Regions from separate parts of the Homo sapiens genome. Here region 1 is linked to region 2. The links come from fine-mapping of genetic effects on gene expression. A gene starts in region 2. The other region holds a variant in brackets. All regions are shown on one strand. Distances are between the middles of the regions. Region 1 overlaps KPNA7 (karyopherin subunit alpha 7). Region 2 holds the start of SMURF1 (SMAD specific E3 ubiquitin protein ligase 1).

Region 1 (5,371 bases), 27 kb after region 2:
CCCTGCTCTTACTTGGTGTTCATCTTTACCGCTTTGGGACTTGTTTCCTTATTTTTTCTTTTTTAAGAGATAGGGTCTGGCTCTGTCCCCCAGGCTGGGGTGTGGTGGCAGGATCATGGCTCACAGCTGCCTCAACCTCCTGGGCTCAAGTGATCCTCCCACCTCAGGCTCCCAAGCAGCTAGGGACTGCCCCATCCAGCTAATTTTTTTAAATTTGTAGAGATGGGATCTTGCTATGATGCCTAGGCTGGTCTCAAACTCCTGGCCTCAAACGATTCTTCCACCTCGGTCTCCTGAGTAGCTGGGACCACAGGTGCACACCACTACACCCGGCTGTGTTTCCTTACCTTTGACATGGAGGCACCGCCACCCACTTCAAAGAACTTTAAAGTACATCTAGCCCTTGACATTAGTTTCCTTCCAATCCTGAACTCTCCATTAATGTAACCACGGTGGCTCACACCTGTAATCCCAGCACTTTGGAGGCCAAGCCAAGGTGGGTGGATCACAAGGTCAAGAGATTGAGACCATCCTGGCCAACATGGTGAAACCCCATCTCTACCAAAAATACAAAAATTACCTGGCCGTGGTGGCACACGCCTGTAATCCTAGCTACCCGGGAGGCGGCGGTTGCAGTGAGCTGAGATCGCGCCACTTCACTCCAGCCTGGCGACAGAGAGACTCCCTGTCTCAAATAAATAATTTTTTAAAATAATGTAAACTGAAACAATTTTATTGGAATTTTAGCCCCCAGGCTGAAAGCTTGGCAGGTCCCTGAGAAGGTAGGTGTAAGGACTCTGGACTTGGGGAGGACAGCATCTGAGGGAGCAAAACTGAGAAAAATGAGTATTTTGCTTACTGAACAACCTGACCTTGGCTGGGTACAGTGGCTCACGCCTGTAATCCCAACACTTTGGGAGGCCGAGGTGGGCAGATCACTTGAGGTCAGGAGTTCAAGACCAGCCTGGCCAACATGGTGAAACCCTATCTGTACTAAAAATACAAAAATTAGCCAGGCATGGTGGGGCACGCCTGTAATCTCAGCCACTCAGGAGGCCGACAGGAGAATCGCTTGAACCTGGGAATGGAGGTTGCAGTGAGCTGAGATTGCACCACTGCACTCCAGCCTGGGCGACAGAGCATGATTCCATCTCAAAAATAGATAAATAACCTGACCTTGTTCCTGTGCCCTGCCCAGAGAATGGAAGGAGGGAAGCATAAGTCTCACAAATGAATGGTTGAAGGACTCCTCTTTAGGAAAACTAACCAGCCCATGAAAAAAGATCTGCAGCTCTGGGCCAGGCGCAGTGGCTCACGCCTGTAATCCCAGCACTTTGGGAGGCCGAGGTGGGCGGATCACTTCAGGTCAGGGATTCAAGACCATCCTGGTCAACATGGTGAAACCCTGTCTCTACTAAAAATACAAAAATTAGCCGGGCATGGTGGCTTGTACCTGTAATCCCAGCTACTTGGGAGGCTGAGGCAGGAGAAGTCACTTGAACCCAGGAGGCGGAGGTTGCAGTGAGCAGAGATTGTGCCACTGTACTCCAGCCTGGGTGACAGAACAAGACTGTCTCAAAAAAAAATCTGCAGCTCTGATCGTTGGGATCACTTGTTGGAATGGCCAGGTTTCTGTGGGGTCACCCAGCAGATATCCACCAATGACAGGCCCCGCTCACAGCCTGAGGACCTTTCTATTACAAGCAGAGATCCAAGGACATCAGACATCTGATGGAAGCCTTTGCCATAGGCACACCAAACTAACAACAAACACCCCCCCAAGAATCAATGCATAAACAAAGCTAGGTCGATAGCACAGATAGGATCTTGCGCTAATGAAGAAGGAGGCTTGAAAAGGGAAGCCTGTGAAAACAAAGTGTCTCGAATTAAGTGACTGCAGAAATGAAAAGCCTGGAAGAAGAGATAAAGTAGAATACCCCAGAAAGTAAAAAATAAAGATGGAAAATAGAGAATGGGACAAGAAAATGAGAGGATCCGTTTCAGTGGGAAAAAAAAATGGTGGTGGCAGGGGAGATAATTCTATTTTTTTCTTTTTCTTTTTAGAGATGGGGTCTTGCTATGTTGCCCAGGCTGGTCTCAAACTCCTGGACTCAAGGGGTCCTCCCACCTCAGCCTCCCAAAGTGCTGGAATTATAGGCGTGAGCCACTGTTCCAAGCTGTTTTTTAAAAATTAAAAGGACAATTCTAGACTGCAAGGCTGATACTTGGATGTACAGAAAATAGGTTTCTATTCAGGACAGCACATTTAAGAATACTGGAGACACAACCTACAAATTTCAGTCAGTAGAGTTGAGACAGGGGAAGAGAGTCATGCACAAAATAATTGGCAATCAGAGTAGAAGACTTTGAACCCAACACTGAAAACTAGAAGATAATGATCGATGCTTGCAACATTCTGAAGGTCATAGTTTCCAGTCTAGAACACTTGTCTGCAGCTGGATTGTCAACCAGGAGTCAAAACAAAGTCCATGTTTTCAAAGGCCAGGTGCGGTGGCTCACACCTGCAATCCCACTGAGGTCAGGAGTTCAAGACTAGCCTGTTCAACATGGTGAAACCCCGTCTCTACTAATAAAAAAAATACAAAAATTAGCTGGGCGTGTTCGCGGGCGCCCGTGATCCCAGCTACTCGGGAGGCTGAGGCAGGAGAATCGCTTGAACCCGGGAGGTGGAGGTTGCAGTGAGCCAAGATCGTGCCACTGCACTCCAGTCTGGGTAACAGAGCAAGACTCTGTCTCAAAAATAAAAATAAAAAATAAAGTACATGTTTTTGGATGAGCAGTGTCTGAAATTTAACCTCCCATGCACCTTCTCTCAGAAGATACATATTAAAAGCCAGTGGGTCTCAGTGGCTCACGCCTGTAATCCCAACACTTTGAGAAGCCAAGGCAGCAGGATCGCTTGATCCCAGGAATTCAAG[G/T]TCAGCTTCCCTGTTTCCTGGATCCCATGCCTACCTCCTCATGCGATCGTTTGTTTTGGAGATGGGGTCTCACTTCATAGCCCAGGCTGGAGTGCAGTGGCACCATCATAGCTCACTGCAGCCTCCAACTCCCTGGCTCAAGCAATCCTCTCGCCTTGGCTTCCCAAAGCCAAATTAATTAAAATTTTAAAAGCCAAATTAATTAAACAATTAGCTGGGCATAGTGGCACACATCTGTAGACCCAGCTACTCAAGAGGCTGAGGCGGGAGGATTGCTTTAGCAAGGCTGCCCTGAGCTGAGCTGTGATGGTTCCACTGCACTCCAGCCTGGGCGACAGAGTAAGACCTTGTCCCTAAAATAAAGGGGAAAACAAGCACAGGCAGGTGTGAGATCCTGCAAACAGGGACACTGACCCAGGAAAAGTGAGTGGAGCCCCCACAATGATGGTAAAAGCCGATCCCAGGACAATAGACGTGTACCAGAGGATGAGGACAACTATTCCAGGCTGGAGCATGACAGAGCTCTCCAGTGGGTGTGGATGACAAGCATGTTGGTAGATTACTGACGTATTACATTCAGCAGGAGGTTTACACAGGCTGTAAGAATTTGATATGAGGTAAACCCAAGGAAAACAAAGCATATGAGTGAAGATGTGGATTAATACTAAGGAAAACACACTTCTGAATATAATTTACATCATTATGATAAAATCTGGACATCAAGCTAACAAAAATTAGATATCTACGATGCGAAGAAAGGGAGGTATAAAAAAATGGCTATCTCTTCTGTAAATTCGAACATCGTCTTTAGATGTAGCATGAGCATAATGTTTAGAATTACAAAAGCATAGACTAGAATAAACAGACCAAAGAGTAGAAAGTTCTGGCCTCTGGGGATGGGGTGGAAGAGGCATGGGTCCTCCTTTGCTTTAAATATCTATAGCTCTGTAAAATATGTACATTGTATCAAAGTTCATTTAAGTTATAAAAATTAAGTATACAAGAAAGTCATGGTTCAAAAATAATATGTAGGCCAGGTGCGGTTGCTTATGTCTGTAATCCCAGCACTTTGGGAGGCTGAAGTGGGAGGACCATTTGAGGCCAGGAGTTCAAGACTAACCTGACCATAGTAAGACCCCATCTCTACAGAATTCTTTAAAAGGTTAGCTGCATGTGGTGGTGCTGCCTTGAAATATAGAAACACACACGCACTCTCTTTCTTTCTAGGAAGAATAAGAGAGATTGAGTTTCTAGAGAAAATTATCTTAGATCTTGTCAGTGTCAGGATATTAATTGCCAGAGGAAAGAAGGCCAGTAACACTGTCCCTGCAGCACTAAGAACCAATGATATTGTATCTGCAAGTCGAAGTCTGTGTAGAGACCAGGCATGTTGGCTCACGCCTGTAATCCCAGCACTTTAGGAGGCTGAGACATGTGGATCACCTGAGGTCATGAGTTTGAGACCAGCCTGGTCAACATGGTGAAACCCTGTCTCTACCAAAAATACAGAAATTAGCCCAGCATGGTGGCAGGCACCTATAGTCCCAGCTATTTGGCAGGAGAGGCAGGAAAATCACTGGAACCTGGGAGACGGAGGTTGCAGTGAGCCTAGATCACATCACTGCACTCCAGCCTGGGTGACAAGACCGAAACTCCATCTCAAAAAAAAAAAAAAAAAAAAAAGAAAAAGAAAAAGTCTGTCCGGATAACTATAAGACCATTCTACTCTGTCTTGAAGGTTTTGCTTTAAGACCTTTTAAAAGGCAATTACTAAACAAATGTTCTTTATTTTTTATTATTTTTTTTGAGAAGGAGTTTCACTCTTGTTGCCCAGGCTGGAGTACAATGGCTCCATCTCAGTTCACTGCAACCTCCGCCCTCCTGGGTTCAAGCAATTTTCCTGCCTCAGCCTCCCAAATAGCTGGAATTACAGGCATGCGTCACCATGCCTGGCTAATTTTTTGTATTTTTAATAGAGACGGAGTTTCACTGTGTTGGCCAGGCTGGTCTCAAACTCCTGACCTCAGGTGATCCACCCACCTTGGCCTCCCAAAGTGCTGGGATTACAGGTGTGAGCCACCACACCCAGCCTAAACAAATGTTCTTAGGAGATGAATTCCACATGGTTTTAAGATGCAAGTCGTTTATCTGAAGTTCAGATAGAGAAACGTGAAAGTGTTGAACATTTTATTAATGTCAAGTTTTAAAAGCTTCACATTTGGGTTACACTAAGATAGAGGACTGCTGCTTCTTAAAGAAGTTATCCTTTAGCACTGGGTTGTTGGTTTAGGAGGTAGGGAGCTTGGCTATTTTTTTGCTAAGCATTCATAATCTATAAATTCATAATCTTGGTCTATGACTTGGCTCAGTAAAGTTTGGCTCTCATCTTCTTCCTTCAGGAGAGAATAGACACTGTTATACCTCCAGGATTC
Region 2 (5,371 bases):
ATGAACTTTTTAGTTTCCTTCCAGAGCTGGAAATATTCGAGTTTGGAAAGTCCCGGAGCAGAGCCGCATTTGCAACACGGCCATCCTGCTTTAGGGATGAATTGAAACTGGAAAGAGAGTAGTACCAATGAGAGTGAGAAAGGGAAGACGAGGATGCAGCCTGGTCCAGAACCTCTGGAGCCCGGGGGGAAACAGGTTGGCATCACATCCGCGCCACCAAGTCGCAGGCCCGCGGCAGAGCGTTGCGCTCACCCTTGAAGGTGGCACTACAGAGCCACCCAGGAAACACGGACTTTTCATTGAAGACAAAATGAATCAAGGAGCCTGCGTGTGGGCAGCTTCCAAAGCCTCCAGTGAGTGTGGGAGTAGGGATCAGAGCCTCACGGCGCTCTGGGTTGCTGAGTGTGGGGGTGATGGTGAAACAAAATGCAGAAAAGGTAAAAATTGAAGAAGCAGAGTTAAAAGTAGCTAGCGGTCTGGCCTAAGAGACAGGAAGTGGCCCAGACTGAGACTGAAGAGGGCTGGACCAGGGGGAAGTGAAGAGAGCAGGACTGGGAGCAGCTACAAGATAGGATTGAGGAATTTCAGGCTGAAGGAAAGAAAGGGTGGAGGCCTCGCCAGACAGCAGCGAGGGGGCGGGGCTAGGCAGGAATGAGGGCGGGGCTTGAAAGTGAGGGGCGGGGCTAGGGGAAGAAGGGAGGAGGACGGTGTGGGGGGGTGAGGGAGAAACGAAAGAGGATGGGGGAGTGAGAAGAGGGTGGGTGGGGGCAGGAGGGGAGAAGCAAGGGGGCAAGTGGAAGGGGAGGTAGCAAAATAGCTTGGAAGTGGTGGGAAAGACCAGGAGGATGAGGGGAGGGAGCAGGTGGGAGGGAAAACAGGAAAGCAAGAGAGATGATGGGAAAGTGGTGAGAAGTGAGGGATGGGACCAGGGGAACAGAGGCAAGGCCAGGAGGGAAAAGCGAGGGGGCAGGTGGGCGGAGAGGATGGGAAGCGAGGAGAAGGAGGGAGGGGGTAAAAACGGCGGAGGAGAAAAAAAGGAGAGAAGCAAGGGGGCGGGACCAGGAAGAAGTGAGGGCCGATGCTAGGAAAGAAGTGAGGAGGCGGGACCAGGAAGAAGTGAGGGCCCAGGCTAGGAAAGAAGTGAGGAGGCGGGACCAGAGAGAAGCGAGGGAGCTGGACGCAGGGAGAAGCGAGGGGGCGGGGACAGAAAGTTAGGAGGCGGGAGCAGAGAGGAGCGAGGGGGTGGGGCCAGAGAGATGGGCGGGGTCAGGTTTGGGGAGGAAAGGTGGGGAAGAGAAAGGACCACAGGGATGGAGGTGAAAGGCAAGGGGGCGGGGCCTGGGGGGAGAAGCGAGGGGTCAGGTGCTAGGGAGAGGAAGGGAAGCGAGAGGCAAGGGGCCGAGCCGGGGAGAGGTGAGGGGAAAGGGCCTGGAAGGAGATGCAAGGGGCGGGGCCAGGAAAAGAGAAGCGAGGGGCGGGGCCAGGGAAGGAGATGCAAGGGGCGTGGCCATGAATGGAAATGAGAGGGGCGGGGCCAGGACGGAGATGCGAGGGGGCAGGTGCGGGGGAACGGGAGGGAACGCGAGACCGAGGGGGCGCGAGCGGCCAGGGGGCGGGGCCGGGCAACGGCGAGGGGGCGGGGCCAGGAGGGAGAAGCGAGGGGCGCACGCCGAAGGGGGTGACGAGGTCCTGGGACAACGGCCGGCGTGGGGGAGGGCCGCTTCCAAGGGCGCCCTGCGGGGAATTCCGGGGCGGGCGAGGGGGCGCCGGGGCGCGGGTGGGCCTCCCGCCGGCCGTACCTGTCAGACGGATCTTGATGCTGGAGCCGTTCCTGCGTGTCCCGGGGTTCGACATCTCCCGCCAACGATCGGGCAGCCGCGGATCCAGCGCCACCGCCCCCCAGCCCGGCCCGGCCCGGCCCCGCCGCCGCCGCCTCAAGGTTACGGCTCCGGGCTGGGCGCCGGGGTCCGAGCCGGGACACAAACTCCGCGGCCCAGGCGTCCGGGCGGCAGGCGGATGGTCGAGCCGGGAGATCGGCGCTTGCTGCGGCGCTCTGACCCTCGCTGCTTCCAGCCGAGCCCAGTCCCGAGCCGCCGCCGCCTCCGCCGCCGCCTCCGCCGCCTCCACCACCTCAGAGCCGGACGCCCGCCGCCCTCGCCGCTTCCGCCGCTGCCGCCGCCTCTCCGAGCCGCGCGCGCGCCCGCCGCCGTGCCGGCCCGGCCCTGCGCGCCCCCGCGCCTGCGTGCGTGCGCGCCCCCGCCACGTACGCTGGGGCGGGGCGGGGTGCGCTGCTACGTCGCCCGCACGCCTGCCTCGGGCGCGCGGGGCCCGGATCCCGCGGGTTGGGGTCTTCACCCTTCCTGTGGTCGGTGGGTGGGAGGGTCTGGCCCCGAGCCCGGGAAGGGAGAGCAGAGCTGGCCCCGGGACCCAGCGCGCGGTCGCCCTCTGTCTTGACCCCTGTCTCTGCGAGGCTCTGGGCTCCTGAGTGACTGAAGAGTGGTTTGCATGAAACCGTGGGCTGTGTCCACACCAAGCTCCTTGCACACAGGCGTGCAATACCAGTTTTTTTCAGTTAAGAGCTTTCGATCGTGCAAGTTCAAGGGAGGGACTTCTCAAAGAGACAAAGCCCTTAGGTGTGTTCTGTGCAACGGGTGTGCTCCACTGACCCATAACAAAGTTGCCAGAATCGCAGAAGTGCCATATACGGACAAGGAAAACGAGATGAGAGGGAGGGATAAAGTTGAGAGGCGGATGTTTGTTATTATCCATTCTGCATACAATTTTACCAAACAAGAAAGTGGCATTGTGGTTTGTGTTCCCATGTCTTCTGCTAAATTTCCCCTTCTCCCGGGGTTGCAGGTTAGAACCAAAAGCTCATGGCTGGGTACGGTGGCTGTAGCCTGTAATCCCAGCACTTTGGGAGGCCGAGGCGGGCGGATCACTTGAGCCCAGGACTTTGAGGCCAGCCTGGGCAACATAGGGAGACTCCATCTCTACAAAAAATACAAAAATTAGCTGGGCATGGTGGTGCGCGCCTGTAGTCCCAGGTACTGGGAGGCTGAGGTGGGAGGATCACTTGAGCCCCAGAGTTCATGGCTGCAGTGAGCTATGATCAGGCCACTGCACTACAGCCTGGGTGACAGAGCTAGACACTGTCTCAAAACACACACACACACACACACACACACACACAGAAAAAGCTCATTATGCGCTTTCTCCAGCAAACAAACTCCTCTCTGTTAGCATGTTATAGAAATAAACTGGTATTATTAGAAAGAGGGAAAACTAGGTTTATCAAACTTGTTTTTTACCCACTACCTTGTTGTTGTTGTTGTTGTTTTTTGAGACAGGGTCTCACTCTGTCACCCAGGCTGGAGTGCAGTGGCACGGTCTTGGCTCACTGCAACCTCCACCTCCCAGGTTCAAGTGATTCTCGTGTCTCAGCCTCCTGTATAGCTGGGATTACAGGCGTTAGCCACCACACCCAGCTAATTTTTGTATTTTTGGTAGAGATGGGGTTTCGCTGTTTTGGCCAGGCTGGTCTCAAACTTCTGAGCTCAGGTGATCTGCCCGCTTCAGCCTCCCAAAGTGCTGGGATTTCAGGCCTAAGCCACCGCTCCCAGACCCCACTACCCATTTTCATGTACAAGTTCTTTTTTATTTTTATTTGATTCTTCATCAATCAACTTGAACAAATTCTTTTAATACTGTGTGTGTGTGTGTGTGTGTGTGTGTCCCAAGGAAAGTAGGCTCTGGGCCATTGCTACCATCCCCTGCAGCCTTGTGCCTGTCCTAAGGTCACAGTCTTCGGAACAGAGCCTTCTACCTAGAGCGCCTAGACATACCTGCCTGCCTGCCCGCCTGCCTGCCTGCCTGCCTGCCTCGGATGACCCTAGTGAAAGCAGAGTCTCTCCTGGGCAGGATTCAAGGCATCACATCTGTCAAATAAAAGGATGGTCCTAGGTCATTTCTATGGCACCTTGCGGCTCTTTCAGTTATCCTCAAGAAAGACCCAAGAATATAAGCAATGTTTAAGCAATAGCAGTAGAGCCACAATCCAGCTGTTTCCATTTGTAGATGATTGTCACAGAGAGTGAATGCCTGGGTCTGAATTAATCCATCCAGTCTCTAATGCTCCCAAGTAATCCCCATTCTTCTGCCAATCCCGTTAGTATTTCCCCCCTATTCAAAGAGTCTCCTCTCTAAACAAAACCAGACATCACTCTCTGCTTACCTGGGTGCAGGCTCCTGTTCTTATCCCCAGGTGTTCCTGACCTGGAAACCTTTCATTGCTTAATTTTGTTGTTTTTCTCCCCGCCCCGACGGCTGGTTCTTCGTTGGCTTGACTGTTTCCTTAATCTTTGAGTCAGGAGGTTGCTTCTGGAGGTTTCTGAAAGGCATTTTGTTCATTCATTAACAAGTACAGATGCTCCTTGATGTACAATGGGGTTACATTCTGATAAACCCATAATATGTTGAAAATATGTCAAAAATGCATTTGCGGAGGCCGGGCATGGTGGTTCATGCCTGTAATCCCAGCACTTTAGGAGGCTGAGGTGGGGGGATTACCTGCGAGCAGGAGTTCGAGACCAGCCTGGCTAACATGGTGAAACCCTGTCAACTAAAAATACAAAAGTTAACTGGGTGTGGTGGTGTGCACCTGTAGTCCCAGCTACTCGGGAGGCTGAGGCACAAAAATCACTTAAACTCGGGAGGCAGAGGTTGCAGTGAGGCGAGATTGTGCCACTGCACTTCAGCCTGGGCAATAGAGCGAGACTGTGTCTTAAAAAAAAAAAAAAAAAAAAAAAAAAAAAAAAAAAAACAACGGAAAATGCATTTACTACACCTAAGCTACCAGCCATTATAGCTTAGCCCAGCCTACCTTAAATGTGCACAGAACACTTTCATTACCATACGGTGGGGCAAAATCATCTAACACAAAGCCTATTTTACGATAAAGTTATTATAAAGAATTTTGAATCAAAATTCGAAATTTGAAGTGTGGTTTCTACTGAATGTGTGTCGCTTTCCTACCATAACATCAAAAAATCGTAAGTCAAACCGTCATAAACTGGGACCATTTGAAATTGCTAGATATACCCAATAGTATCTTTCACCACAGCTGCACAAAGGGGACCTTCCTACCTGGAAGCTCATGTTTTACTCATTCGGCAAACATTGGCCACCTGCTATGTGGCTAGGAACAAGGAATACAAAATAAATCTATTACAGCTTCAGCATTCCAGAGGGTCAGTTAACTGGATGAAACAGACATGAGCAACTGACAATGATACAGTGATGGGGATGTGTATAGCAGGCTAGAACATAGATGACAGAACAATTCTACATAAGAAGAGAAATGGAGACATCT

What was found. PIP is the estimated chance that this variant, and not a neighbour inherited with it, causes the effect.
Region 1: its variant is fine-mapped to the expression of SMURF1 in whole blood (TOPMed, PIP above 0.99).

The regions. Positions count from the first base shown.
Region 1 is chr7:99,168,463-99,173,833 of GRCh38, forward strand. KPNA7 (karyopherin subunit alpha 7) reads right to left here. Exons shown (of 11, transcript NM_001145715.3): 11 at 5,110-5,332. The coding sequence ends at 5,246. Among named protein-coding and RNA genes, the nearest start is that of SMURF1, 27 kb to the left of the region's middle. The variant G/T (reference allele first, on the strand shown) is at 2,940.
Region 2 is chr7:99,141,927-99,147,297 of GRCh38, forward strand. SMURF1 (SMAD specific E3 ubiquitin protein ligase 1) reads right to left here and starts at 2,182. Exons shown (of 18, transcript NM_181349.3): 1 at 1,800-2,182. The coding sequence starts at 1,854. It also overlaps a transcript of KPNA7 not described here. RefSeq lists silencers at 1,364-1,413, 1,474-1,803, 1,944-2,443.